Regions from separate parts of the Homo sapiens genome. Here regions 1 and 2 are each linked to region 3. Evidence: fine-mapped expression QTL. A gene starts in region 3. Each other region holds a variant in brackets. All regions are shown on one strand. Distances are from middle to middle.

The links. PIP is the estimated chance that this variant, and not a neighbour inherited with it, causes the effect.
Region 1: its variant is the best candidate, but not a certain one, in a credible set for the expression of GPC5 in tibial nerve (GTEx, PIP 0.73).
Region 2: its variant is the best candidate, but not a certain one, in a credible set for the expression of GPC5 in lung (GTEx, PIP 0.65).

The regions. Positions count from the first base shown.
Region 1 is chr13:91,563,727-91,574,008 of GRCh38, reverse strand. All of the region lies in intron 2 of GPC5 (glypican 5), which reads right to left. Among named protein-coding and RNA genes, the nearest start is that of GPC5, 170 kb to the right of the region's middle. The variant C/T (reference allele first, on the strand shown) is at 5,571.
Region 2 is chr13:91,443,805-91,454,086 of GRCh38, reverse strand. It overlaps GPC5 (glypican 5), which reads right to left. Exons shown (of 8, transcript NM_004466.6): 2 at 5,165-5,326. Among named protein-coding and RNA genes, the nearest start is that of GPC5, 50 kb to the right of the region's middle. The variant G/A (reference allele first, on the strand shown) is at 4,482.
Region 3 is chr13:91,393,928-91,404,209 of GRCh38, reverse strand. It overlaps GPC5 (glypican 5), which reads right to left and starts at 5,589. Exons shown (of 8, transcript NM_004466.6): 1 at 5,001-5,589. The coding sequence starts at 5,163. LOC124903189 (a long non-coding RNA gene) reads right to left here and starts at 7,333. Exons shown (of 2, transcript XR_007063831.1): 1 at 7,049-7,333; 2 at 6,622-6,864. RefSeq lists silencers at 5,505-5,774, 5,481-5,775.

The sequences.
Region 1 (10,282 bases), 170 kb before region 3:
GGCTCTCTTAACTATTTACTAGAGATAATAAACCAAGTGGCAGGATGTAGTGACAAACTAGAAATAGATACAGGTATAGACATAGATAGACATATACACATAGGTGTGCACACACATACATATACATATATATACGATAAAACTTTGAAGAGGGATAAATTTTCATTTTTGTTGAAGCACTTACTCTCTTATCAGAGTTCATTTTAATTTTATCTCTCCACATTTATCTCTTTAGATTATCTTCAACCAAGTCTTACCTCCATATTGCTTAGTGTCCAAGACTGTAAAATGCTTTTAATATGTTTGTATAATACATAATTAGGAAATAAATTAGATACTGGTACTAGAAAAAATTATCAATATAAAATTTACAGGTTTAAAACAATTTTATAGGGTCAAATATTTGAGAGTAAAGGGTATCAGTGTTATACTGAATATAAGCTATAGTTTGAGCTCTTAAGAGGCATTTCACATAGTGATGACTCATTAAATACATTTTTAAATGAAAATAATGACTACCTCTAAAGATATTCAGCTTCATTACTTTGTAATACGCATAGGATCAGAAAGTAAGCTTTAAAAAATCTTGACAGCAGTCATCTCTGAATTAGCGTAATGACTACACAAGAAATGATCGATTCTCAGCAAGTTGCATGTATGCGTATGCCATACTAAAACACTTAAAAGTAGCTGTCGTAAGGAGATTAAATGTGACCCAGGCAAATGTGCTTGCACCACTGATTTGTAAGTGAGCCAACAAACAAAGGAGCCTGTCTATGAGTCTACTTCATGATTGCCAGATGAATTCGTGACAGCTCTGCCTTGGAAACGAGGAACCAAGTTGTGCTTCCCTGGACCTGAATTGTGTAAAACTTTGCCCAACTCGTTACAGCAACCTGGCTTGCCAGCACCCATTTCTTCCCAGAACATCAGGAGATCACTGAAGAATCAAAGTAACAGGGGCCATTGTTCAACTTCTCTCAGTATTGCCAGAATGTTCTGAATTGAGGGGAACTGTATTAAAAGTTGCTTTCCTTTTCTCCGGTATGCCTTTGTGACCATGGATTTGGGACAATTATAATAAAAACAAATAATTGGGAGTGAATGTAAGTCCCAGATTGACAAAAGGATCAGGAAATAAGCACACCATAAGAATTAGAATAGGTTGAATATTTAAACTTTGTGTTAGAAGTAAAATTTCTGCTGGTATAAGGTTATGACTATCTTTTTTTGGGAAGGACTGTGATATGGTTTGAAGGTTTGTCCACTCCAAATCTCATGTTGAAATGTGACCCCTCAATGTTTGAGGTGAGGCCTAGTGGATGGTGTTGAGTCATGGGGGCAGATCCCTCGTGAATAGCTTGGTGCCCTCCCTCCCCATGGTCATGATTTCATTCTTGCTCTGTTAGTTCATCTGAGAGCTGGTTGTTTAAAGAGCCTGGCACCTCCTCCCCTCTCTTGCTCACTCTCTCTCACCATGTGATACAATGGCTCCCCCTTTGCTGTCAGCCATGATTATAAGCTTCCTGAGGCCACACCAGAAGCAGATGCTGGCACTACACTTCTTATAGTCTGCAGAGCTGTGAAGCAAATAAACCTTTTTTCTTTATAGATCACCCTGTCTCAGATATTCCCTTGTAACAACACAAAACGAACAGATACAGACTGTCCTTTAACTCGAAGTTATTTTATTCTACTTTATAGTGAAATATACACATATACACATACATATATACACATGTATATACATATGTGTATATATATACACATGTATATACATATGTGTATATATATACACGTATATATACATATGTGTGTGTATACACACGTATATATACATATGTGTGTGTATACACACGTATATATACATATGTGTATATACACACGTATATATACATGTGTGTATATACACACACATGTACATATACATATGTGTGTATATACATGTATATATACATATGTGTGTATATACACATATATACACACGTATATGCATATATGCATATATACACATATACACATATATACATATATACACATATATACATATATGTGTGTATATGTATATACATGTGTGTATATATACAATATGTGTATATATACAATATGTGTATATACACACGTATATGTGTGTATATATACACACACGTATATGTGTATATACACACAAGTATATGTGTATATATACACACACGTATGTGTGTGTATATATACACACACGTATATGTGTGTGTATATACACATACACATGTATATGTGTGTATATATACATATATATATATTTGAGACAGAGTCTTGCTCTGTCATGTAGGCTGGAGTGAAGGGGCACCATCTTGGCTCACTGCAATTTCCACCTCCTGGGCTCAAGTGATTCTCCTGCCTCAGCCTCCTGAGTAGCTAGGACTACAGGTGTGTGCCACCACACCCAGCTACTTTTTTGTATTTTTAGTGGAGATGGGGTTTCACCATGTTGGCCAGGCTGGTCTTGAACTCCTGACCTACTCACAATATATATTTTTACACATAAAATTTTCATAATTGTTACTGTGCTTGTCAGTTTGAGGCATCCTTACTTGGCAAGACAAAAAGTTTAAAATAGGATGAAAACAAAAAATATGCAGTACATTCTCTGTTAATGACCAGATCTTTTCCCCTTCCCATTTCTCAGCAAGTGGACAAAACAGAAAAGATTCTAAAAAATCATTTTTCCTCTATCTGAAACATTTCAAGGAATTAGCAAAGAGTTAAAATCAGAAATGTTTATCTCCAAATACAGGAGAAAGGCATTACTTATACTTGCATACAAATTATTAATTAAAAGTTGATATTGACTCTGGAGGTAAAATAAACTCTGACTTACTATACAAGAAGGACCATTAATGTTGTATAAAATATTTATCTGTGAGGAGTGCAAAGACCAGAAGCATTAAAAATAAAGCCAAATACAACAAGAATTTTGAATACTGCATACAGACTGAACTATCAGACAAGGGAGATACAGCAGAAATCAACCAGGAAAACAAAAAACTACTGAGGCAAGCTATGATTTTTAATAGATTATTGACTTTATGCATAAAAGAAACTAATTAAAGAGTTATGTACTTTTCTAATTAAGACAATTTGACTAAGAAACTTGACTTTCCCAAAATTCTGAGTCCCAAGTTTATAAAGTGTATGCATCCCATCAATGGGCCAATCAAACTACATCTAAATTAGAAGCAAAACAATTACAAAATTTTGGTTGATGAGTTTGGAAATCACCGATGGCTCTAATTTTTAAAACATAGCACAGAGAAAAATCATACATTACAGGAACTTTAAACACTTGGATTCTGAGATTCAAATTCAAGCTCTAACATTTACTAACTAAAGGAATTTGGGTAATTGCTCGAAAGCATATATTCTCAAATATCTAGTGGAAAATATAGCAAGATCCTTGTAAGATAGGTAAGTGGATTAAATAACATAATCATAGGCACCCATTAAAAAGCTATAATTTTAAATATTTTCTAAGTATAATACAGGTTGAGTATCCCTAACCAAAATCCTTTGGAACACAAGTGCTTTGGGAATTTGAACCTTTTTTCAGATATACCAGTTGAGCATCTCAAATCCAAAACTTCAAAATCCAAAATATGCCAAGGAACATTTCCTTTGAATGTCATGTTAGTGCTCAAAAAGTTTCAGATTTAGGAGAATTTTGGATTTTGGATTTTTGGATCTGGGATGTTCAACCTGTTGTGATGCTCACTGTGGAAAATGCATGTCTGAAAATTTTTAAATGCATAATCTCAATAAGAAAAAAACATTAACTTTCTGATGTCTATTTGTCGGGATGGACATAGACACAAAATTTTAAAAGTTTGTTTATGGCGACTTTTATAGTTCAATAGATTTTCAAAATATGTAGCTTAATATATGAGTATATCTTTTATGCATTTTCTGTTTAATCATTTTTTCCGAAGGGACTTAATCACTCTAAAATTACAAACCTTCACTTAAATTGTTATCTTATTCTTTCATTATTATCTTCGTCCATTTGTCCTGCTGTAACAAAATACATGAGAATGGGTAATTTATAAAAAACAGAAACTTATTTCTCACATTTCTGAAGGCGGGGAAGTTCAAGATCAAGAAGCCAGCTGGTTCAGTGTCTCCTGAGGACCCATTCCTTATAGAAGGCACTGTCAAGGTGTCCTCACATAGTGCAAGGTAGAAGGAAAATTGGCCTAAGCTAGCTCCCTTTAGCCATTTTACAAGGCACTAATCCATTCATGAAGGGAGAGGTACTCTTGACTTAATCACTTCCCAACAGGCCTCACCTCGTAATACTACCAAAATGAGGATTAAGCTACAATACGAATTTTGGAAAGGATGCCATCATTCAAATTATAGCAATTATTTTGTTACATTTAAAACTCTACTTCTTCTAGATTCTTGAACATGCATTCTCATTGGGGGTTATACCACCTCCAATGGGGCAAAATTGTTGAGGCTAGGGAGAACAAAAATGTTATATATTAAAATTGTTAACGACGCTCCAAAGGGCCATAGTACAGAAACTGATGTAGAGTATATCTGTATTTTTAAAATTACAGAGAGAGAGGATGAATTAGGAGAAACATATATATTTTATATGACTTGTTGCAGCCAATGACAAAAACAATATTTAGAAACACTGACCTAGAACTTATCTTGGGTATGATATTTTAAAAATCCACTTTTTCATAAATGTTTAGATAGGTGGCCCAATATCATTTATTGAACAAAATATCTTTCCTCACTAATTTCAAGTGACACTTTCATATCCTAAAATTTTATATCTCCTTGGTCTGTTGTTCAATTTCTTTCTATCTTGCCTCAGCTTTCAACTGTACTAATTTTTAATACAGTTTACAGTGTGTATTTTACATGTTATAACACTTCATGGACACATCTTACATTAAAAAAGAGATAACAGCCAGGAGCAGTAGCTCATGCCTCTGATCCCGACACTTTGAGAGGCTGAGGCAGGTGGATCACCTGAAGTCAAGAGTTTAAGACCAGCCTGGCCAGCATGGTAAAACCCTGTTTCTACTACAAATACAATAAAATTAGTTGGGTGTGATGGCAGACACCTGTAATCCCAGCTACTCAGGAGGCTGAGGTAGAAGAATTGTTACAACCCTGGGGGTGGAGGTTGCAGTGAGCTCAGATTGCACCACTGCACTCCAGCGACAGAGAGAGACTCCTTCTGAAAAAAAAAAAAAAGAAAGAAAGAAAAAGAAATAACATATGGTACATGATTTGCTATGGAAAGCCTATTTTAAGATAAGTACTGGTGGCCTTCCAATTTATATTGATCATTAACAAACCTAGACAATTTTAAAGACAAAATATTTGAAAAATTCTAAGGACCCGTCTTCATACAAGAAAAAAACACTAAACTTTCATGCCTTTTTTTTTTTCAATAAAAGCTCTACTTTTTCCCTAGCAATGTGATGTACAACTCAGGAATTTGTAGATATAAATCTTCCTACAGACCCAGCTGCACACTAAGGATCATATCCTAGAAACCCTTATAAAGATTG[C/T]CTCCTATATTAAAAGCAACTGCTGATCTACTGAAGCATTTTATAAGTTTGTTCAGTTCTCAAACTTTAATGAGCCTAGGAATACCTTAGGGAAGTTAGCTAAAATATAGATTCAGATTCAGTAGTTCTGGATGAGGGCAAAGATTCTGCATTTCTAATAAATTCCCATGTCATGACAATGCTGCCAGTCATAGATCACACTTTGAGAAGCAAGGCATTAATAGGCATCTGCATTAGTCCATTCTCACAGTGCTATAAACATACTATCTGAGGCTGGGTAATTTATAAACAAAGGAGGTTTATAAAGTAAACTACTTCCACATGGCTAGTGGGACCTCAGGAAATGTACAATCATGGCAGAAGAGGAAGCAGGCACCTTCTTCACAAGGTGGCAGGAGAGTGTGTTAGCATGTGAAGGAAAAGCTGTCAAACACTTATAAAACCATCAGATCTCGTGAGAACTCACTCACTGTCACAAGAACAGCATGGGAGAAACTGCCCCCATTATCCTATCAGCTCACTCCCTCCACAAGTGGGGATTACAGGTCTGTTCCGCCACATGCGGGGATTACAATTTAAGATGAGATTTGGGTGGGGACACAGAGCCAAATCATATCAGCACCTATAACCGAACAAAAGAAAATTAAGTAACTAAGACTAAGGCTTTCTAAAGTGGAGTTGGGAGATTGGGAGAGGACTGCAGTTACCCCTGCTGAAGGTCAAACCACAGAATGTTCCAACAGACTTCGACAAACAACTAAAGTCTGTATCCTCCAGCCTTCAATATCCCTCAGCTGGCAGTATCCTAATTAACTAACCAATCAGAATGGGTTTGTGATTTCAGATTTCTGCCCAGCCAAATAACTGCTTCTGAAAACAACTTGTGTGGAAATCTCTATTAAAAAACCTCTCCTGAGCTTGGCATACAGAACACTATTCAGGGCTGCCCTGATTCAGTGTACCTGAGTTGCAATTATTTATTTCCCAGAAATGCTATAACCTTTGACCTCTGTGTTAATCCCCCTTTTTTTAGTTAAAAACACCATTTTCAATTAGCAACATGGAGGACCTAGAAATACACTAAGTGTAGAGAACATCTAAACAAAAGATAAGAATATCTGCTTTTAAAACACATCATACTACACCTGCATACTCATACGCACAGGCACACATACACAAATACACATGCAGCTTCCTTCATATATACCACGTTGAACCACTCCTAAAAATAAAGAAATCTCCAGGTTCCTTTAAATGACTTTAATTCTGATATTTGAACTATTCAGTCTGTAGAAATGGAGTCACATGCTTATGGGACAAGGCTGGCCCTGAGAAAGATCCAAATACAGGACAAGATCTGAAATAAAAGCATGATGATGGGAGCCAATGGAAACAGGCAAAATAGAGACAGTCCCAAATTCTGTACTCTAATGCATTTGCCTTTTCTTTCCCAGTCACTGCTAAATGCTTTCAAGTTTTATTTTGCTTTCTCAAAAAAAAAAAAAAAGAATTGGAAGAAAAATAATTAATTTTGTAATATAATCTTTCAAATGGTTTATTTTGATGAATATTTACTCAACATTTTGGTTGACTAATCAGTTTTCAAAATTAAAAACCTCTTAAATCCCTTTTGAAAAGTATTAAAATATAATTTCATATAGATATGATGTGCTTTTCCTTTTACTAAAGTGAAGTTTGAGAAAAATATTTTATTCAGCCACCTCAAATATTAGTCTGCTATGTTTCTCAAAAATTTATGTAAGGATTACCTATATCAGAAATACCTGTGGTGCTTGCTGAATACTCACATACTAGCCATTCAACTACTCAATCAGATATCTGGGAAATAGTTCAGAAATTTTTTTGTTTTTGTTTTTGAGACAGAGTCTTGCTCTGTTGCCAGGCTGGAGTGCAGTGTCATGATTTCAGCTCACTGCAACCTCTGCCTCCTGGGTTCAAGTGATTCCCCTGCTCAGCCTCTTAAGTAGCTGGTACTACTGGCGTGCACCACCACGCCCGGCTAATTTTTTGTATTTTAGTAGAAACAGGGTTTCACCATCTTGGCCAGAATGGTCTCGATCTCTTGACCTCGTGATCTGCCCACTTCAGCCTCCCAAAGTGCTGGGATTACAGACATAAGCCACCGCGCCCGGCCAGAAATTTGCATTTTTGATAAATGATTCAACTCATTCTCATTTAAGTAAATATTTTAGACATAGTTTCCTAAGAAACTCAGAACTGACTTTAATACATTTTGAGGCTGTAGTAGATTGGTGACCCCCACGCACAAAGATATGTCCACTTGAAGCCTACACATGTGACCGTGTGTGGGAAAAAGGTCTTTGCACATGTAATTACATTGAGGATCTTGAGACGAGATGATGCTGGATTACTGTGTGGGCCCTAAATCCAGTAACAAGTGTCCTTATAATTAAAAGAAAAGACAAACACAAAGGAAACGGCAATTTGAAGACAGCAGCACAAATTGAAATCATGGGTCTACAAGATAAGGAACACCAAAAAGTGCCACCAGCCACGAAGAGCTTGAAGAGAAACATGGAATAGAGTCATCCTCAGAGCCTCCAGAAGTAACCAACCCCACAGACACCTGGATTTCAGACTTCTGCCTCCAGAATCATGAAAGAATAAATTTCTGTTGTTTTAAGCCAACTTATTTGTGTATATTTGTTATGGCAGTTCTAGGAAATGAATAAAGTCTTTCAAAATATATAGATAATGCTCATTAATAATATAACTAATAGTCGGTTACATTTGTTCAGCATTAGTGTGCCAGGCGCAACGCCTAGGACAAACAACCATGGCTGTAAGTACATGTCTGGTTAATTTTAACATTAATAGTCTCTTCCACTTCAATATTTCCTGGATCTTGCCTAGGATTCCCTGCCAATAACAGCCTCTTCCCCAAACTGCTCCCTTACTTATTTACTGCCTTTTGTTCTGGGCCAATAAGTTAAGCAAATATTATCCGATGTCTGCCTAACAACTGTACATCGCTTAAGCAGTATAAATTCCAAACTTTCTCTAACAACTGTGCATTGCTTAAGCAGTATAAACTCCAAATTTTTTCTAACAACTGTACATTGTTGAAGCAGTATAAACTCTAATTTTTCACTGAAATATAAATATTTGGCCAGGCACAGTGGCTCATGTCTGCAATCCCAACACTTTGGGAGGCAGAGGTGGGCAGATAACCGGAGATCAGGAGTTCAAGACCAGCCTGGCCAACATGGTGAAATCCCATCTCTACTAAAAATACAAAACTTAGCCAGGCGTGGTGGTGCATGCCTATAATCCCAGCTACTTGGGAGGCTGAGGCAGGAGAATTGCTTGAACCCAGGAGGTAGAAGTTGCAATGAGCCAAGATCACGCCACTACACTCCAGCCTGGGTGACAGAGCGAGACTCTGTCCCACCGACCCCCCCCCAAAAAAAAGCCACAGAAATATAAATATTTAAAAATCATATAACTAACCATGACCTAGAAAAGTCAGCCATTAGTTTATGACCTTGAATTATTTTATTTAATTTATAAAATATGAATATTTGAATTTTGTTTGTGTTACTATACAGTATAATTTGAAGGCGACATATTGAAAAGACTTGTAAATCACTTAAAGACTAAACAAAAATCGATAATATGCCTGATAATTTTTAGACTGCAAAAGCCCATATTTGATACCTGGAAAAAAATTCAAATATATCATTTATCTCCATTTACACCCATATCTCAGGGATACCTATAAGCAAATTTGCTATTCCATTAAGATGACAGAGATTAGAAAACAGTCTGCAGGCGATTTATTCTGCCACATGCTGTTCTGAGTTACATGCTCATGAGATTGCTTTGCAAATACATTAAAATTCACTCATTTCTGCCAATTATTTTCTTGGATTGCTAAATCGTTATCTACATTATTCATATCTGTCTGTATCCCAAGGATGCTACTTGAAATGGCAGAAAGTATAAAGCCCCAAAACAATACAGTACCAAACTTTTATACAGAATTAAAGAGACGAGGCTGTTTGTACCCAGATCTTGCCAAGTTGTCCCAAGGGCTGAATTGATTAAGATGGTAGCTGACTTGTTACCTCTTTATGACATACCAGTGGGACATGATCCACCAGTTAAGGAGTTATGGTATAGATCATATTTGGCATTGTATTAATATATTGTCACTTAAAGAGAAAATCTTCTCCTAAAAGAAGAAATCACCACGAAGATGATGGTAAGGGGGCAGGTGGCCAAATTCATTCAAAGATAAAAAGCACCAAAAGGACACATGTTTCGTGTTAGCAAGGCATTGGGTGCTGTCACTGAAATGGTTTTTGAATCCAACATGTGGAACTTTGTCCAGATTCCTAGATAGGGTGCCAAGAATAAGACAGCTTTGTTGAAGCCCAAAAGAGGAGTTGGTTGGGTCAAGAGTGGGACACCAAGGCGAAACACTCACTTCCAACTCTAGTTACAGAGGCACTAGGCAGGAGTCATGATGAGAGAATCCAGCTGGAACACTAGTAAGACCCTCCTCCCCGGTCCTCCGGGAGGAGGCTGGCAGCAACATTGAGGAAGGAAATGGTCAGAGAGAAGAGGGTCCTCCGAGAGGAGGCTGGCAGCAACATTGAGGAAGGAATTGGTCAGAGTGAAGGGAAAAGCCTGAGGAGGGAAGGGAGGCAAAGAACTTCGCTGGTATT
Region 2 (10,282 bases), 50 kb before region 3:
TATTAGATAACACACTAAACCATGCACTGCCTAAAACTGAACAAGGAAAAGAATGCAATCCCATTCAGCATGCCACTGACATAAACACTATCATGTGCCCCTTTATAGTTTAGAAATTAATAAACTAATAAATATGTCGGCATATTAGGAGTCTGAATGATCCAGTAAAAGTATAATGGATTTAACATTTTGACACTGTGTACAATCTAAGTACCTAATGATGCTGGCACCCAGTAGGTGCTCAAAAGATATATTAAATGCATCAACAGAGGAATAAAAGAAAGGAAGAAGGAGGAGGGAGGGAGGAGAGAGGAAATGAATCTCTCATTTTATTTCTGAACCATTTTCTTGCTAAGTACCATTCATTCATTCATTCCTTTATTCATATAGTTAATTTACTTACATTTGCTGTATATCTGCTCTCAGTGCTACACATAGAAATAAGTCTCCCCAACACTACCAGCCTAGGCTGCCTGTTCTCTTAATCTTGATCAAGTAATTCTTAATGTTAAAAATAGCAATACGCCTTTATTCTTCCTAGGAAAAATTTTAAATATAGTCCATTTCTGTAAAGTATAGCTGAAGTGACTTAAATAAGATTAATGTGCTCTATGCTTGATATTGTAACATTTATATAAATCTATTTGTCTTCATATTCATTAATATATTTGAATATTAACTATATCCTGTGTCTTTTGCTATATATATACATATATACTTTAGTTTTACAGTAGCAGCTATACGATAGCTATACACTTTACAGTAACCAGTATCTGTTAGCATAAAGGATAAAAATCCGTAAGTTATATTCATATTCTCAATTCACCTGCTTTTTAAATATATTTAATTTCAAGCATATTCCTACATTTCATTAAAAATAGCAATCATTTTTTAATAAATTCCTGAATCTAACATTTCAACCCCAGAGGACAGGCTTGCCAATCTTTCAAAAACATATAATCAAGGAATCAAAATATAATTAGCCAAGAGATGAAATCAAAAAAAAGTTAAATAATTTTTGTTCTAAATGTCACTTAGACTCTAGCAATAACATTTTTTTAGAATAATGCATTTCCAGTTATATATATAACTGGAAATTTTCCAGAATAAAGACTTAGTATCCACCATATATTTTAGAAATATATGAGCATAATGAAGTTGAAAGAAATAAGAAAAGGTTCATTTCTAAGGAAAGATATAACATTTTAACCTTATCTTCCAAATATTAACACAAAACACAAGCTTCCAATAGTGTCCTCTAAAATATTATTTTTTATTTTTTGAAAGTCATGTTGAAATTTTTGCATAGTTACAAATTAAAAAACTAAATTTCATTATTTTATTTAAACAGAGATTTAAAAATTGAAAAATATATAAGCTGGATAAGAGTTGTTTTTTACAGAAGATGACTCTCCATCAATTTCCCCTATTTCTCCATGCATCACACCATACTGTCATGTATAAAGAAACAAAATATTTATAACAAATATTTCCAAAATATTTTTAAAGCAGAAAATCTTATAGCAAAACCACCAATGGGAAACAAACTCTTGTATTATCCTGGGCTGTTCTGCTTTATTCATGAACATTACTAAGCCCCTGAAAATGAAGAACAGTTATTGTTTGCACTGTGACAAAGCCAACATTCCTCCTTGCAAACAGCACTACTTATTTATGAACAGCAACTGACATAAGGGTAGCAGTTTTCTTTTTCTGCCCTATAAAATACTTCATGGATGATTGCCCTTAGAATATAGTGAAGTCCCAGGTCATAATCATGAGTCCTTCTAAAAACAGATTTTTGGCCAGGCATGGTGGCTTATGCCTATAATCCCAGCACTTCGGAAGACCAAAGTAGGTGGATGAGTTGAGCTCAGGAGTTCAAGACCAGATGGGGCAACAGGGCAAAACCCTATCTCTATAAAATATCAAAAATTAGCCAGGCAAGGTGTCATGAGCCTGTAGTCCTAGCTACTCGGGAGGCTGTAGTAGGAGAAACACTTTAGCCTGGCAAGTTGAGGCTGCAGTGAGCCATGTGATCACACCATTGCACTTTGGACTGGGCAACAGAGTGAGACCCTGTCTCATAAATTAAAAATAATAGAAAAAATGAAAATAAATAATAAATAAAAGCAGATTTTTGTCTGTTTTGTTCATTTTAAGAAAATGTGGGCTGGGCATGGTGGCTCACACCTGTAATACCAGCACTTTGGGAGGGCGAGGTGGGTAGATCATGAGGTCAGAAGTTCAAGACCAGCCTGGTCAACATGTTGAAACCCCGTCTCTACTAAAAATACAAAAATTAGCTGGGCATGGTGGCACACATCTGTAATCCCAGCTGCTCGGGAGGCTGAGGCAAGAGAATCACTTCAACCTGGGAGGCAGAGGTTGCAGTGAGCAAAGATCATGCCACCGCACTCTAGCCTGGGTGACAGAACAAGACTCCACCTCGGGGAAAAAAAAAAACAAACAAACAGAAGAGTTGTCCTAGAGGCTAATTCTAGCCTAAATGGAATATACATAGGCAGTGGACTACAGAGCCCAGTGTGAGTTTCACATAGGATAATCTTAGGTCTCTTCTAACAACAGCTGTCAGCATGGCTTCCTCTCTCCCTCATGCATTTTTAACCTCCCAGCCTTCATCTAACAATAGTGTGCCCTCTGCTAAATCCCCAGACCCAAGTGATCATCCTCACTGGCTGTATTCAAAAGTTTGCTCTAAAAAATATGTTTCCGTGGGGTCACATAAGGTCCATGAGGAAAGAGACCATACTACATCCCAGTCCAATGTCTTTTATAACCTACAATATAACTCGGAAAACAGATTAATATTGTTGAACTAGGAAATATAAATGAACTATTTGAAAACTAAAAAATCAAAATGTAGCACATCTACTTAACATCATTTGAGAAGTTAATTGATTTCTCTATCAAATTTCTCTCAAGTAGACGTTTCCCAAAAAAAATGTGTTGGCTGCTTCCTTCTTATAAAGACTTTATATTGTTTTCAGATATTTTAATTGCACAGAAATTAGATGGAGGGCATTTTACTTAATGATAAGGTAGCCTGCTCACTTATGGTACAGCAAAGTGATCTCTTGTACTGCTTTTGGCATATATATTTAAGCTTGTTTTTAAGGAAATAAGCCTAAAGCTACTTATTCAATTCAATAAAAGTGGGTATTCTTATAAGTGAATTTGGTTCCAGAAAAGTTAGCCTTTAGGCAAATTTCTTTTAAATTTGTCTTCCCTTGAGCTTCTTAAATAAAACTTGACATCTACTAAGGAAGAAATTATAATTTATTATTAAAAAATCATATTTAAGAATGTCTCTATATTTTTTATAATTAATTTTTAAATAGCAAAACTCAACCTAATGAATAAAGCAGATAAAATTTAGTAAACAGAAAACAAAGGTTTACATAAAATTAGCTGACACTTCAATAGAGACGATCTCCTTAACATATATTTCTACTACTGAGATGGTTATCACTAAACTTTTAGCAGTATCACCAAAACTTTTCACCAGCCTCAATCCATCTTAAAAGTCTAAATATTCCAGGTTTCCTAACCCTTTGAACGTAATGTGCTCTATCTTGATCACATATCCAAGATTCAATATGAATCCAGTCCACCTTTTTAAGCATATGACCACCTATCACAAACTCCATTCTGCTCAGACTGATATATCCACTGCGTGGCCTCCAAAATGTATATTTCATATTGTACCTACTATCCTTTTCATTGGAAGAAAATATAATTTTCTGTAGATGGTTAACGGCTTCTAACTCAGCTAAATCACAAATCTTGGTTTAAAATGTATATCAGTAAATTTTCCTCCAACAATTTCACATGAATAAATCCTACAATAGAAATAAAGTTGTTTTGTAAGGCATCTAAAAAAGCAGCTAAATTTATAAAACCTTAAAATCTGACATTTCACGCTTTCTACAAAAAAGCATTAATTCATCATGAACTACACTTTAACTTAAATTTTATTCTGATTTATTGCATTTATTTTATTTAATAACTATCATTTTAAAAATTAAAGAGCTCTGTGATTTACTTATATATGTACACCAAGCAAATTATTCAAATAGATTGACATTAATGTACTTATTTAAAAGGAATACTAACAGAAGTTATATTCTGCATTGACCAAAGGTAATAATTTGAAAAGCTGTATAATCTAGATATTTTCATTCTAGTCATATACAGAATAGCTAATGCTTTATAAGAAGAAAAATAAATTAAGCTATTTTATTGTAGTAATAAGGAATTTTACAGAAGAGATGACTAAAATAAGAAAAACATCATGTATTTTTCAGTGTGCCTTGTAATTTTATAACCTATTAATTTTATATCTGAACATATTGCTTGAATTAAGGTTGAGTTCTGGTCTTAAATGACCCTTAAACATCCAATTAACATTTCCTGTTTTACTATTTATCAGACTTGCTTGCACTTTGATATATTCCACT[G/A]GTGTTCTTATGAAAACCATATGAGATTAGAGCAAGGAAATTTAAAGAGTATTTCTTCAAATAACAGGGGCCTGTTGCGGGGTCGGGACGCAAGGGGAGGGAGAGCATTAGGACAAATACCTAATGCATGCAGGGCTCAAAACCTAGATGACGGGCTGATGGGTGCAGCAAACCACCATGGCACATGTATACCTATGTAACAAACCTGCATGTTCTGCACATGTATCTCAGAATTTAAAGTAAAATTTTATATAAAATAAAATTATGAGACATCCAAAAAAAATTTTTAGTAGATAAATCTATAATTACCCAGTAAAAAGCAATGAGATTTTATGTTATAGAACTTTTCCATGAAATCTAATAATTATGTCTGTTCATATTAAAGTACAGCTATGAGTCAGAATGTTGGCAGACCTGGAAGAACCCTATAGCAGTATATATTTCCAACGATCATTTCACTAACATAACAGTCCAACTCAGTTTCCCCAATCCAACTCAGTATATACTCCCACAATGACCTCAGAAACAAGTTTTGAAGGCTAGAAAAAGTTAAAACCTCATTTTATACCCGAATATTATGTAAATACAAGGAAATAAACCCAGCCAAGTTTGCCAACGTAACTATCTTAGGCAAATTACATAACACGGCCAGTCCTTAGTTGCAGAATTCAAGATCCACTTACCTTGAAAAGCAGCCGCATTTCGAGATATTAGAAACTTTAATGTAGAGCTGGACGTTTGAAGAAACTGCTGCATATCCTGGCGAGCCGCAATCTGATATCTCTCCTCCATCTTCCTGGTGCAACATGTAGGCTTTTTGGATATGCAAACCTGAAGATCAGGTCCTGGAACACACAACATTTTTCAGAATGATTACCTGTTCATTTAACAAGTATTACATATTATATATCAGGCGTTATGACCAGTCCTGCACACAAAGGACTATGTGAGGAATGGATTTGCTAGAGTACTTGCTATAAGAAAGTTTATCTATTGCTCATTAACACAATCATAAACAAAATATTCTAAACCATTAACTCTTTGCTCAAATATTATATTAACTTCTTGGTCAAATATTAAGTATCTCCACTCAATAGAAAGCAAATTAACTACTATGAAGTACAGCGCTCAATCAAGAAAAAGGTTTTTTGTGGGTTTTTTGCTTATTTTATCAATTCAGCCAAAATTGCTTGAAAGAAATATGTTATAGATAATTATGTGGACTAAAAGAATTGCTTTTCATGGGGAAATGAAACTGAATTTTGAACATCACATAAAGGTCAAAAAACTTGACCTGATTTCTCAGCTGCCATCAGGCTCGTGCTGCTTGTGAAGTAGGCTATCTCTGCAATAATGACATGCTGGGAGATCAAGGCCCCCATGGGCCCAAGCTCAGCATCCAAGATTCCACTCACTATATAGCTGGCGAGAGACAATCCCCTCCTTTAAAAGCACTTTTTAGTTGTACAATCATGTTTAGAAGGATCCTGTGAAGATGTATATTGCATGAAATGTAAAGTTATTAATATATGAAATGTAAGAGTTATGGTTACAAAAAAACCTTTGCTAGTATCACTAAACTTTCATCCTGGTAGGGACCCAGGACAAGCACCTTTATGCACAGCAGATATGCTAGAGGACAGAGAGGAAAGATGTGGAGCACAAAGAGTTAGTGCCCAAAGAGGAAACCCTGATGGAGAGAGCTGATGTGAGCCCCAGGGCATTCCAAGGCTACTAGATTATAAGTAAAGCTCAGGACAATTTTATTTACATAATGGCCTAATACGGTTATTTCCTTACTTTAGAATAACAAGAAGAATTGTGGCCCTTAATCTCTGTGAGTTTCACAGGTTCCACATTAGTTCTTCATCAACTAATTTTAGATCAGTAAAATAGGTGCATGCACACAGACATACACACAAGACGCATGCACATAACAACCACCTTTCAAGCCCTTCCTACTTTTTCCACACAGAGTTGGCCTCAGGTCTCAAATTTCCAAAAGTTGGTTCTGGGTCAGCTGAAAATATATGAAACCACTCTGAGCTTCCTATCAACATGGGACACCAAAATCTCTAACGATTTTGGCTGTAGTTTAAGTCAGACAAATAACAAATGACAGAATTTTGACACTTTACAAAGGCTAAGAAGCATAAAATATTCGTAAGTGTCACAGTAGGTAACATTTTGGCAATCGTTTTTCACTTATCTTACCTAAAGTTACGTAAGAGCAAATTCTACTTCAAACAGTAAAATTATTTGAAAAAAAAAAAAAAGCTATCTTCTCAGCTTTATTCCTAAATTGAAGGATTGAGGAATTAGCATCCAGAGAAAAGCAATAATAGAGATTGAGGAAAAGAACTAACGAATAAATATTAAAGTATATAAACATATTTAGTGTAGGAAAGACTGCTGAGGAATAAAAAGAACAATAACAGCAGATCATAGCAAATATCTCTTTGGAATTTAAATATATAACACTGTTGTGTTAGACCAATTCCTAAACATGGCCTGTGAAGGCCTCCAAGTTGTGATCCTTCCTTTCCTCCCTCCCTCTCCAGTCTCATCTCCGGAAACATTGGCCTTTGTACTCTTCCCATCACACTCTGGCCTTATTTCAGCTCTCTGTGTTCACCAAGCTCTCTCTTGTCACAGAACCATTTTCCATGGTCTCTTCTCTGTCTCAGACACACTTACCCTACCTGTTCTCATGCGCGCATGCAGCAAACCCTCAAAGATTGACTTATCTCTCCTTGGCACATTTCCATCAGTATCGCCTATAAGATAAGCTTAAATAATTTAGAGTTGGGTCACAGTGAAAAGGGAAAAGAGTTGACAGGAAATGTGTTCCCTAAGTTACTATATCAATCCAAAAGACAGACAAGATGAACAAAATCCTCAGGGAAAGAGCTATCTCTTACATTTTGTTCACAGTATCAGCACAAAGGGCATAATAAGATGTTTGGGTGATATAAAGCCCAGGCTCCTATTGTAAATAGAACAGGCATCATAAGAAAACAAAGCTAGAGTGAACCCAGATACTATTATGCATGGTAACTAGAGGTATCTGAAGATTTCAATGCCTGGCTTCGAGGAACATGGCATGATCCTAGAATTCTATGAGACAGCAAGAGTACACAACCCAGGCTCTGGAGTGACAGTCATGTTTCTAAACAGTAAAATCAAACTCCAAAAGAAACAGAGTACTAAAACAAAACCAAAAATAAAACAGTAATGTGCCTCAATGAAGGAGACTTCAACCAGAATTGTGGGGATGTTTCTGAATTCTCACCCAGAAGCAGCAGTAGTGGTTAATACGTCTTCCTTTCCATTCTCTAGCATAAGAAATTTACAGATATCTACATGCCTGTATATTTTCAATATGTTAAATAGGAACATCAGGAGGTATTCTGGAAATATGGTGGCAGTGGCAGCATAGTTTTCACTATCTCCAAATCTCCACATAAAACCAGATGGAACTAGAAAACAAACCCCCAAAAAACAAAAACAAAATTAGATGACATGATATCCCCACAAACTTTAAAATACAAACAGAATGGGGAGAAACCAGGAATAGGCACAAGATCTTCACAGTAACAGAGCAGGGCACAGGGTAGAAGAAAGATGCAACAGAGGAATGTCTGAAGGATCTGAGATCAGGAGAACCCCAAAATAGTGAGCAGGAGTGACAGGAAAGCACAGCGACCCACTTGAGAATACAGTAGCTCCCCATTTAACCATGGTTCCACTTTCTATGCTTCCAGTTCCCCACAGTCACAGTCTGAAAATATTAAATGGGAAATTCCAGAACCAAAAATCTTATAAGATTTTGCTTGGGCATGGTGGCTCATGCCTGTAATCCCAGCACTTTGGGAGGCCAAGGTGAGCAGATCACTTGAGGTCAGGAGTTCGAGACCAGCCTGGCCAACATGGCAAAACCCCATCTCTACTAAAACTACAAAAATTAGCTGGGCATGGTGGCATGTACCCATAATCCCAGCTACTCAGGAGACTGAGGCAGGAGAATCACTTGTAGCTGGGAGATGAAGGTTGCTGTGAGCCGAGATCGTGCCACTGCCCTCGAGTCTGGGGGACAGAGCAAGATTCTGTCTCAAAACAAACAAACAAATAAACAAACTGATAAGGCTTAAATTGCTTGCTGTTCTGAGTAGCACAATGAAATCTCATGCCTTCCTGATTCATCCCACCTGGGGTGTCGATCACCCCTTTGTCCAGGAGATCTCCGCTGTCTATGCGTCCCACCAGTTAGCCACTTTCTAGCCCTCCTGGTAGTCAAGAGGACACTGTCCTGGTATGGCAGTGTATGTGTTCAAGTAACCTTTATTTTACTTCAAAATGGCTCCAAAGCACAAGAGTAATAATACTAGCAATCTGGATTTGCCCAAAGTGCTTCGCTTAAGTGAAAAGGTGAAAGTCAGTTAAGAAAAGAAAAAATAACGATATGCTGAGTTTACTAAGATCTACATAAGAATGAATCTTCTATCCATGAAACCGTGAAGAAGGGAAAAATAATTTGTGCTAGTTTTGCCATCGCAACTCAAACTGAAAAGTTATAGCCACAGCACGTAAGTCCTTAGTTAAGATGGAAAAGGCATTCAATTTGTGGGTGGAAGACATGAACAGAAACATGTTCTGACTGACAGCAGTTGGGTTTGGTTCTATCTGATGCTTCGGGGATCTACTGTGGGTCTTGAAACATATCCCCTACAAGTAAAGCGGGGCTCCTACAGCAGCTGAAACTGGGAGAATTTTGCCCCCTCAATCATTAAATGTGTTCTATCGACCCATGATAGAAAAGAAGGAACAAGAGCAGTCCCCACCCCAGTAAACAATCAAACAGGTTCAGCAGGGCTCCTTTCCAGGACAGAACCACACACAGAAGAGAAATGCTGTAAGTGAAATCAAAATTCAACAGAACAGGGATTCAAGACACATAGAGAAAGTCTAGCCCAAAGTGCAAAGGAAAATAAATCCAGAAAATAACATAAAATGAGCTGCCATATTTTTAAACACTACACAAAATTAACAGAAGAGGAAGCTCTGCAATGTTACAGAAGCTATGCTGAAGCCTGTCTCAATAAAAATGTTCAGAAAAACAAACACTAACTTCATATAAAATGAACAACAAAAATATTGAGGTCGATACTCAGAGTTACTATAATAAAAAAGAGAATAAGAAACAGAATAATATCCCACAGACAAGAAAAAATATGCTGGAATGATATGCTCCCTCCAAAAAAGATCAAAAACTTAGCCATACTATTTCAAAACAAGCTGAAAGACAATGACACAAAACATGAAAGAACAACATATGTCAGAATTTTAAAACTCAGATATGAGGTGATAGTACTCAGGATAAAAATTAAAGATAAAAGAAAATAATTCTAAATGAAGCCTTACTAGAAGGAACACAAGAGCCAATCACACAAACGTAATGCCTTAAGAGAAACAGAAAATGAAAAATAAAAATTTTGAAAAATCAAAAAGAATGAAGGAATTTGAAAGATAGTGACAACAAATACCAAAGTGAGATATTGATCATGTAAGCCCCTGAAGAAAAAAAACAGGATAAATACTAAAAACTGTATTTTATGTCATCTGAAATTGTTGTGAGTCTAATATGGGATAAACAAATAAGCAATTTTGGAATGTTCTAATTCTATCCTCTAATTCCATCCTGTATTCTTGAAAATCCGGATCTTTAGTGTGGAAAAACGGAGATACAGACATGATAAAGAAGACGTTAAGTAAGACTCTGTAATCTTGAATTTGAATTATAA
Region 3 (10,282 bases):
GGTAGATTTAGAAAGTGTTCTTATCAAATATAAGGACAATGTGAAAGTGGATTATACACACACACATACATGTACACACCAAAAATACCCATCTTCCGGAAAGCCTTAACAGGCTGGAAACAAGGAAAAATAATAGGGATTGGGGGGTGATAAGTGGAAAATATTATTCTTAAATTCCTCAAGTTGTACCCCTCCTAAGCCAATTTTACAACTATAGGATGTTGGACACTCGGCAAAATGGAACTTAAATTATGGGATGGAGAGAGAATGGGGACATATATAATATTTGTAGTTGATGCACTAGATTTATAGTTGACAGCAATAGTTATAATTAACCCCATGAGGGAATATGTGTGATCAGTATAGTTCAGCACCTGATGAGCCATTGGATTCTATGACCCTAAAGTAGAAAATCAAACTCACTTCTCCACCATTAAGATGCACTAAAGGCCTAGAGAAAAATGAAACACGTGATTCTCTTAGACATCAAAGCACAGACTGGACTTCCCAAGGGAAAAGGTGACAAACTGTCCTGGAAGTGGAACTGGGCCTTGATGCTCACAATTCAAGATAAATAACATGCACAGAATTAGAAAACAATGATGAGGCAAGACCACTTGGGACCTGTGGTATAAAAGGATGAGGACAAAGGCACTCTGCAACCACAAAAATAACTAAACATTCCCCTCTTTTAACCAGCACTAGCTACTACTGCTTCTTTATTTATGACAACTACCCCACCTTAATCTTTCTAACACCTAGATAAAAGTTACCAAAATAGCCAATTCCTGAATTGCCCCACTTCATTAAACCTTCCTTATAATAATAGCCCACCACAAGCCCAAATCCTATAAAAAGCCCTCCCAACTACCTACTACCAAACTCTCCAGAGTCCCTTTGGTGTGCAATCTCCCTTGCTGCAACAAACAAAATGAATCTAATTTTACTACAATCTTGTTTCCAGTGGTTCCTGGCTGGTGGGCTTCGACCCAGGGCAATCCTGATGTTAATCATCTGCCCCAATGTCAGACGACGGGTCCCAATTCTGGCTTTGGAAATTTGATCCCCACAAACACGTTGTTCAAACAGCAAAATTGGTTTCATGAGAAATAGAGTCGCAATTTCAGATTACTGTCCATGAGTGACTATGGCCACCAACATTCTAATTGTGTGAATCTGTAAACCACCTTAGAAGCACTATTTTACCTCCCTACAGACAGAAGAACGGTGGTGTGGCAGTGGAGACAGTGGTTATGGGCATTGCAGCTAGCAGCAGCGCAGCCTTGTTTCATAGAGGTTTATTAGTTCACAAAAATAAACAAAATATTCACCATAATGTAACGGATATCACTTTAGATAAAAATACATTTCCCAAATTTAAAAATAATCATTTCTGACTTGAAACCAACTCATTATTGTAAAAACATCTTTGATATATAAAGATCTAAAATTAAAATGTCATCCTTAAAAATCAAGTTAAAATCAAGACAGTAAACAAAAAAATTATAATGACAACAAGAACATATTTTCAGCACTTACTATGTGCCTGGATTTGTGACATTTTACATTATTTCATTTTATCTATGCAAACACTTTTTAAGAATATTCCTATTTCTAAATGAGAAAACAGAGGTTCAAGATGATAATTTGTCTATGAAGCAGAACTACAAGTGGTAGAACCAAGTTTTGAAAGCCAAATGTCTATCCAGTAAATCCAAACTCCAAGGTTACCAAGCAGATCATTTTTCTTAGGTGTGAGAATGAAACTACACTGTCCTTGGAGCAATAATAAGATTTGATTATAATGAAAGCAGTTTAAAAAACAACAACAACTTCAGAGCACTGCTTACAGTGTCTTTTAGTATTAAAATTTCACTTAGCCATGTCAAGAGTTTATTTTTATTACTCTATTTATAGCCAAAATCTACCAAGGAAAAGTTACTTTCACAGACTACTTGATATCGAGAGTATACTTGCTATAGATTTCTATATCAACAAACATGCATATTTCAAAAAATAGTTGGTATATAAATTATCTAAATGTATTATTTTTTATGAACTTCCCCTTTCTGAACTACCCTCTAAAAGAGGAACTACTGCATGTGTGAACAATGCACAATGCATGTGCAAAGAGAATTTTAATAGAAAAGCATTATCCCCATCCCCAATAAATAAAATAAAAATGAAAAGACCTTTAAAAGACACTTTCAGTAACAGTTCTTTTCTGAATAAAATAAACAAGAGCAAAGGGCACCTTGACTACTACTTAGAAAATAAAATCGGAACACAGGGAAATCTCTAATTCTAATCACATTTACACCTTCTCTCCTTTTTTACATTTCTCATCCAAACATCCTTAGGAGCTCAATAGGCTTAAAAGAATTGGAGCAGGGTAGAGAACAAAGGTGAGGGGAATCTGAGAAACAGTTTAAATCACTGCTCTCACAATTTTAATAATTTCAATTTGGATAACATTTTTATCAGAAAAAGTAAAAGTCACAAAGGTAGGAAGAAACTAAAAACTTATTCTACCTGCTTATATTATACAAACTGTGTTTTGGCTAGACATCTCAGGGATTAACCACTGTGAACAAGAAATGCAAGAAAGCAGTAAAAATACGTACTTCCAAAAACAAAATCAAATTAAATGTGTTTGTTTTAGTCAGTGAAAGGGTATGTGCTAAATGAATAGATTTGTTAAAAGATATTACTATTTGTATTCTCATGGAGAAATGACTAAATTATGTTCTCTCTTGAGATTGAGGATAATCTTAGAAAATATGATAGTCAATTACCATATTCAATCATGTTAAATGTTGTAGATCATATATAAATACAAAAAGAAAGAAAATTATTTATTAAGCATGTGGTATGTTTGGTTTACTCAATTTGGGATTGAGGGGTTTTTTTTTTTAGAGAGATGAGAGGAATCAGTGTTTAAAAAAGTTTAATATTTTGCTGAATTATTTGTAAAAGAATGACCAACAATACAGACACAAAACTTCAGAATTATATCAAATTCCTATATGAATGCCTTTTTTGGGGGGTGGATCTAAATCAGCATAGCACTTTTGTGTGACTTTTTCTTAGTGAAAATATTAAAGGAACTTAGCATTTCTTTTCACCAGTACCACTGATGTCTCTAAGCCTCTTCTGTGAGTGCTCCCGTGATTCCTCCATCACCTTCAGCCACAGATTTAAAAAATCTACTAGCAATGGGGAAACAATCCAGAGTGACTTAGAAAAGAAAGATTCCTTGTCGTCATGGAACTTTTTTGTGTGTCATGTGTATCAAATGCAAATAATTACAGTCATTTCCCTCTCCTTAGGACAGAGCTTTAGTTTTCCCTGACATCCTGGTAAGACACTGTCTCAGTGACTGATACTCTGGAAAGTTCATCTTTAAAAGAGATGAACACCCAATCAATGTGTTGCATTCAGCAGATACCAGAAATACTGAGATACCAGAGTGGAGTGAAATCAGGGCCTTACTGGGGAGAAGGGGCTGGCCATCAACATTCGGTGAACATAGCAGGCAAAGTTACCATATTTGGGGACTAAAAATCTAATAATTCAGGTAAAGATCTCACATCATAACACCCTCACCACCCACACGCACAAACTCACTTTAGTTTTATCAGCAGCCAATAAAGTGAGATTTATTTCCTAATGAAAAGAATGCACTAAGAAAAATACAGATCTATAAGGCGATATTTTATTTGGGGATAGAAGAATCGCCCTAAACTGAGAATGTCAACTTTGTTTCAAGTAATACAGAAAAAGCACCTAGTACCAAACAGGTATACAAAGAAATAGCTGGGTTTAAGACTGGTCATGTAAACTCAAATGGAGTCAGTGTTCCCGAATGCCTAGATTTTCTTTCTGGGATGACTTAAAATTGAGCAAAGCAATCAAGAAAAGCGGCTACAGCTCACACTTCCTCATTGCTACAAGCAAGTCCCCCAACCCTGGAAACTCGGGACTTTAGACTTAAGCGTCCTCCACAAGTTCTTTGTTCAACCAGTAACCTCACAGATTCGTCTGTGTTGGCTTCATAGTCACAGCTAAAGGGGTGCATGGCTCTAGTGAGATCTTACTTAGCTCTAGACACCTGCTATTGCGTTTGACAGCTATGACCTATTCTTCCAGACAGAACCTACACTGGAACTCCCACCAGCAGAAGGAAATTGGTGCGGTGGAAACGGGGAGCAGGGTTCGAAAGCACAGGCAAAAGGCGCTCACAGGAAGCAAGATCCACGCTGGCCACACAAACTGTATCTTTCCCTTTGGAACGCTGGTACATCTCATCCATGTCAAGTGACTCCCCAGTACGTTCGGTTTGATCGCCTGTTGCCCTAACACTTTTCAGGCTAAAAACTACCTTGGTGCTGGGAGACACACTGGGTGGTTGGGTTTCCTCCAAGCAGGGCTTGATACGAGGGCACAGAAGGGCAGCTAAGGGTCACGTCTCTGGGTGCACAGGGTCCAAGTCCTAATTACAGAGGAGACCGGCTGCCCTTGTCTGTGCCCCATTCTCCAGCAAAGGGGTATATCGCAGGTTTGTGATTTTTAGTACCAAACTTGGGGCGATCAATTCAATTCCCTCCACCTTATGAGAAAGCAGTAAACCGAAATCCCCGGTGGGGCACTGGGGAAATTCCTACTCGGAAGAGAAACGGAGTTAGACTGCGTGTCCCCCACGCCCTGATGTCTGCTTTCCTGGTTCCTTCCAACTCATCCTCCAAGACGAAGGGAGCCGGGCGGGAAGCAGATGCCCAGAACGGGGATTCGTCGCAGGCTTGGTTAGGGGTCCCCAGAGCTGCGCTGCGCTGCACTCAGGCTACCCGCACCAAGCATCCCCGGAAGCCTCCCCGGGATTCACCCTGCGCGGCTGCAGGGCCCGAAAGGTCATCTTCCCACGAGTGCCACCAAGGGAGCCTGGGGGAGCGAAGGCCGGGCTCGGACGCCGCCAGTCCAGAGACCCCCTCATTGCCCCTTACCTGCCCGCGGCGAATCCGGCAGCCCCCTGACAGCTCCCAGCAGCCGCCACTGGAAAAGTTTCCGAACTTCTTCGCAGGTCTGCACGCCCTCGCTGCGGGCGGACCCAACCAGGGCCAGAAGGAGGAGGCAGCGAAAGCCCACGGGCCAGGTCTGTGCGTCCATCCTCGCCGTCCTGGTCCCCTTTACCCGCCAGTGGACCCCACTCGCCCTGCGCGCCCTGGCTGAGCTGCAGACGTGGAAGACACAGCGGCCGAGGCTCTCGAGCGGTGCGAGCCGGCTGCGGGGTGTACGGACCGCCCGCGGGCACCGGCTTCACCTGGGAGCAGTTAGCTCTTCCCGGAGGAGGCCCTAAGCTGAGACACCAGAGTTTTCCAGCTGAGCACCCTCTGGTCTTCTTCCCTAGCCGAGAAGAGTGGGCGGCTGGGCGGGGCGAAGAAAACTAGTGGAGCCGCAGGGAGCCCGCAAGCATCCGCTCTGGCCACCACTGCTGCAACTGCTGCCGCTGCCGCCACTGCCGCCACTGCCGCCACTGCCGCCGCCGCCGCCGCCTCCGCCGCCCGGCTCGGCTCGCAGCAGCTAACCTGGGATGTGCCCGCTCGCTGCGCTCCGCGGAAGCCCCGCCCCGCACTCCCCGCCCCGCGGACAGGCCACGCCCCTGCCACGCCCCCGGCGCGCTGTCCCGCTCCGCACCCACTAAGATGCTGTCATACGCGGCCCAGTGCTGAAGACTCGGAGCGACATCGATGCAAATAAATAGAAGGAAACCCGGACCTCGCTCTCCCAGTCCGTTCTGGGGAAGAATCATCTGATAAAAACAGAGAATGTATAAATAGGGTCAGAGAAGACAAGAGATGAGAAACACCAACTGGAACTAAGAAATATCTCATCTATGTAATCAAGGTCCTCAGTACATAGGAATTTGTATTCTAATTGCATTAAATAGGATCTGGACATAATACAAAAGGCAAAAACTATTTACGGTTAAAGATCTCAATTGAGAGACTTCATAACACTTAGGTTGTTAAAGAGTGCACATGAGAAGTTATTTTTTAAAATGGCTTTGTTTTACTGCTTAGGAACATTTTTCTATAACATGATTTTCTGAAAGGAGGTATAAGAATTACAATCAAACTTTATCACATTCTTATCACAATGAAATCTAGTTTTAAGTCTCTTATCACCATTTAGCATCATATTTTACTTCAGCACTTTGTATTTGTGGGGCTCCTCTGAGCTTTACCACTTCTGGAATTTCTTTAAAATATTTTTCAGAGAGCAATTAAGTTAAGAGTGCTCAGGGGAGTTCCTTACAAGGAATATAGAAAAATAAATACTTTAAGCAATTTTAAAATGGCAAAGGAATTTTGTCAATTTACAGTTTATGAGAGGAATGCATTACGCACCATAAACCAAAGGGCAGGTGCATTTTTTAAATGTGGTTGACTCAACAACTAAGCCTGTAAGAGTGTCTCAATCTACAGCCACTTGAAGAGAGTACTCCTTCTGTAAAATAAACTAGTTAAAAGCATCAGGCAGAGGGGACAATGAATGCTTTAACCACTTTAAGGAATTTCATCTCAAATTTGAACCCTTACCAAGAGATAGTAGTGAAAAACTTTATGTCTTAGTGAAGATTTTTAATGAACATTTAATATCAAAGGCAGCACTTTCAGCAGTATATCACTTGCTTTAAAACCATTCCAGGGCAATGGCTGAAACACTGCTTCAGAGTGAAATCATGCTACTTGGTGTTTGGCATCAGTTTTCTGAATATGAGATTTTGTTTCAAAGGGCAGTGCTCTTCATGAATCTCTTCTGCTCTAACCACCAAGTATGGAAAGATTGTCTGGAAGCCACCTATATCTATGAAAAGAAACAAGAAAAACCATGAGAATGTATATAGTGCTTATGGGCCAGATAATATTCTAAGTATTTTATGGAAATGAATTCACTCATGTAATCTTTATAACAACCTTATAAAGTAGTTACTACTATTATCATTGTTTTACAGATGAGGAAACAGGAACACAGAGGTGAAGTGACTTACTGAATGCCTAAGGTAAGTGACAAAGCCAGAAATCAAACTGAGGCTTCCAAATCCAGACCGCATGCTCTTCTCCAGAGGCTCTCCTTGACTATTCTGTGGTACAGAAAAACCCATCAGGTTTCACCAAAGGCCTTTGGGCAGCAACACCAAGGGCTGTTTATTCATTTAGCAGATTTTTTACTAGTAAATATGCATAATTTCTATCTATATAACTGTATTCTACTGGAATTATGTGTATCTCTATATAAGGCTAATAAATTCCCAAGTTTTTCTAAAACATCTTTATTGTTACCAAGATCTCTCCTTGATAGATTTGATCATCTTAGACTCTTAGCATCAAAAAGATCCTTAAATTACCATCTATCCCATTAACTGGAATCTCTAAAACGGTGTGTCTTGCAAGGATAAAAATCATAAACACAACTGAGTATTGATGGTTCAGTAAAAGCTAATTGACTAATACATATTGGTTGAAAACATACAATTTTTTTAACCGCTATTCTAGGCTTAACAGGAGTTTAAAGAGACACACAAGCAAGTTTTCTCAGTGATTTTATAAGTTAACAAAACAGGTGGGAGGTCATTTATAGAAATGCCATAGGAACTAACAAGAATATATTTAGTCTGTATAAAATATCCCCATTAACAAAAAATAAATATATTTTCCTTCTACCTCTTATCCATAACTGCTAGCAAAGTGGATGAGCCAGCATGTGGCCTGGAAGGGCATCTTGTCCTATTAGCATCCCTAAGCCCACCACGCAAGGCAACAGTATGCCTGCTACTGAAGCTACCAAGCTTCAAGACAAGTTTTCTAGTTCCACCCAGAACACAATGCCACGATCCCTTTTATAAGAACATTCTAGAGCAACCTCTGCAAATTATACCATAACTAGCCTTTTATTCAATTTACTGGTAAACATTACAAATGAAGCTAGGGAAAACTGTCCATAATTTGATAGTTATAATGCCTTATTTTACAAAATGTATTTAAAAAATGTATTGAATGTCTTTTATATAATAGGCATTGCGCTTTGCTTTCAAAATACCAATACCCTTGGATAGGAGAATCCTTAAATGGTCATTATTTAAAATACAGCTTAGTAATATTCTAAATCCAAAACTTCCCTGATACTTTCTATGTAACTGTTTATATGTTTATAGTTTGTCAACTTAGGACCTTGTAAAGAGAAATAAAAAACCTCGGCCGGGTGCGGTGGTTCACGCCTGTAATCCCAGCACTTTGGGAGGCTGAGGCGGGTGGATCACGAGGTCAGGAGATCGAGAGCATCTGGCCAACATGGTGAAACTCCATCTCTACTAAAAATATGAAAATTAGGTGGGTGTGGTGGCCCATGCCTGTAATCCCAGCTACTCAAGAGGCTGAGGCAGGAGAATCGCTTGAACCCAGGAGGCAGAGATTGCAGTGAGCCCAGATCGTGCCACAGGACTCCAGCCTGGGGGACAGAGTGAGACTCCATCTCACAAAAAAAAAGAAAGAAAGAAAACCTCCAGTGTGGTTTAGGTGATTTAATGATATCACAGAGTCTTCAACCCTGACTATTCTTTTAGGCTAAGACTGGCCACTAATTAGTTTACCCTCAGAAGCTGATTTGGGTAACTTTTATACCCAGTCAATGACAAGAGCTAAGATTTATTAAGCACTTACAGATATTATCTCATTTAACATTTCAACCATTCCATGAGACAGTTACTATTATACTACTGAGAAAACTGAAGTACAAAGAGATTAAATAACCTTCCAGAAATCCTGATAAGAGCCCAAATGCAAGCCAGGCTTCATAACTTTTGTACCCCTTTAGTCACTACACTCGCCTGCCTGAAAAGCCAGACACCTGGTTTGTGGCCCCTTGAACTCAACCTATCATATAAATATAAACTCTGGTACTCACAGCTATCCATGTGGACAACCTGCTGAACACCTTGGTTATAGTGGTCCAGAGCTCTGCATTGGCTTCAACGATGGCCTGATAGTACCTCACTGACGTGGGGCTGGCCAAGGTACTACCTGCTCCTACTTCCTACCTCCACTAAGCTTTTAACTAGGAGAACTGTTTTGCAAGCACTAAAATCCCACGAACTGCCTTGACATCTTTGAGCCTCACAGGTCCCTAGTCATGAGTTCTCCTGCTCTGGCCAGATATGCCCCCCACCCAGATGGAAAGTCTTGCTTGCTGGCTACCTCCCTTAGCTGGACCAGCTCCATCCCACCCTGTCTTCAACCTAATGGCTTTCACCTCCCTTCAGAGCAATTAGTCCAACAAGATAATCACATCCTCCTGTGGGAACCAAGGGGTCCTCCCCACAACACACCATCTTCTTGTTACTACAAAGCTTGCCTCCCACAACTCCTGCAGGTTCACTCTGCTCCCAAATGAAGCCCCTCCTCCCCTGTATGGCCCTGCATGGCATGTGGTAGCCTCCTCCCCTGGGCTATGAGTATGTGTGACTAACAAACTGCTGTAAATCTCATCTGTCCAGTCTTGTGTGTTTGATCATCTCGTATAATTTACAAAGGGGGATCCCTCTTTCATCAACTGGGTGAAAAGGAGGTTGTCAGAGAAAGAATATCCTTAATACAAATAACTTCCACTTCATTATTTCCAAAAAAGTGCTGACTTTTGTCTTGCCCTACCTTCTCTCTCCCTCCGATGTAGGCTCTAAGCCGTTGGTTGCACAATAAAGAGAACCAAGTTGGATGTCAGCCCGAGCTGCCCCAGTAATGAATTTCTGCCACCAAGTAACCAGGAGAAAATTGAGTGATACTCCCCTGAAATCTCCTCTAGTGAAGATAGTAATGGTTCTGTTAAAAAAAAAAAAAATCACCACCGGGCACAGTAGCTCTCGCCCGTAATCTCAGCACTTTGGGAGGCTAAGGCAGGAGGATCACTTGAGCCCAGGAGTTTGAGACCAGCCTGGGCAACATAGGGAAACTCTGTCTCTACAAAAATTCCAAAAAAATGGCCAGGCATAATGGCACATGCCTGTAAGCCCCAGCAGCTTGGGAGGCTAAAGTAGGAGGATCACTTGAGCCCAGCAGGTTGAGGCTGCAGTGAGCCATGTTCGCACCACTGCATTCCAGCCTGGGTAACAGCGTGAGACCCTGTCTCAAAAGAAACGAAAAAAGAAGAGAGGAGAGGTGAGGCGAGGTAAGGCGAGGCGAGGAGAGGAGAGGAGAAGGCAAGGCTGCCTAAAGGAGAGACTACACAGCAA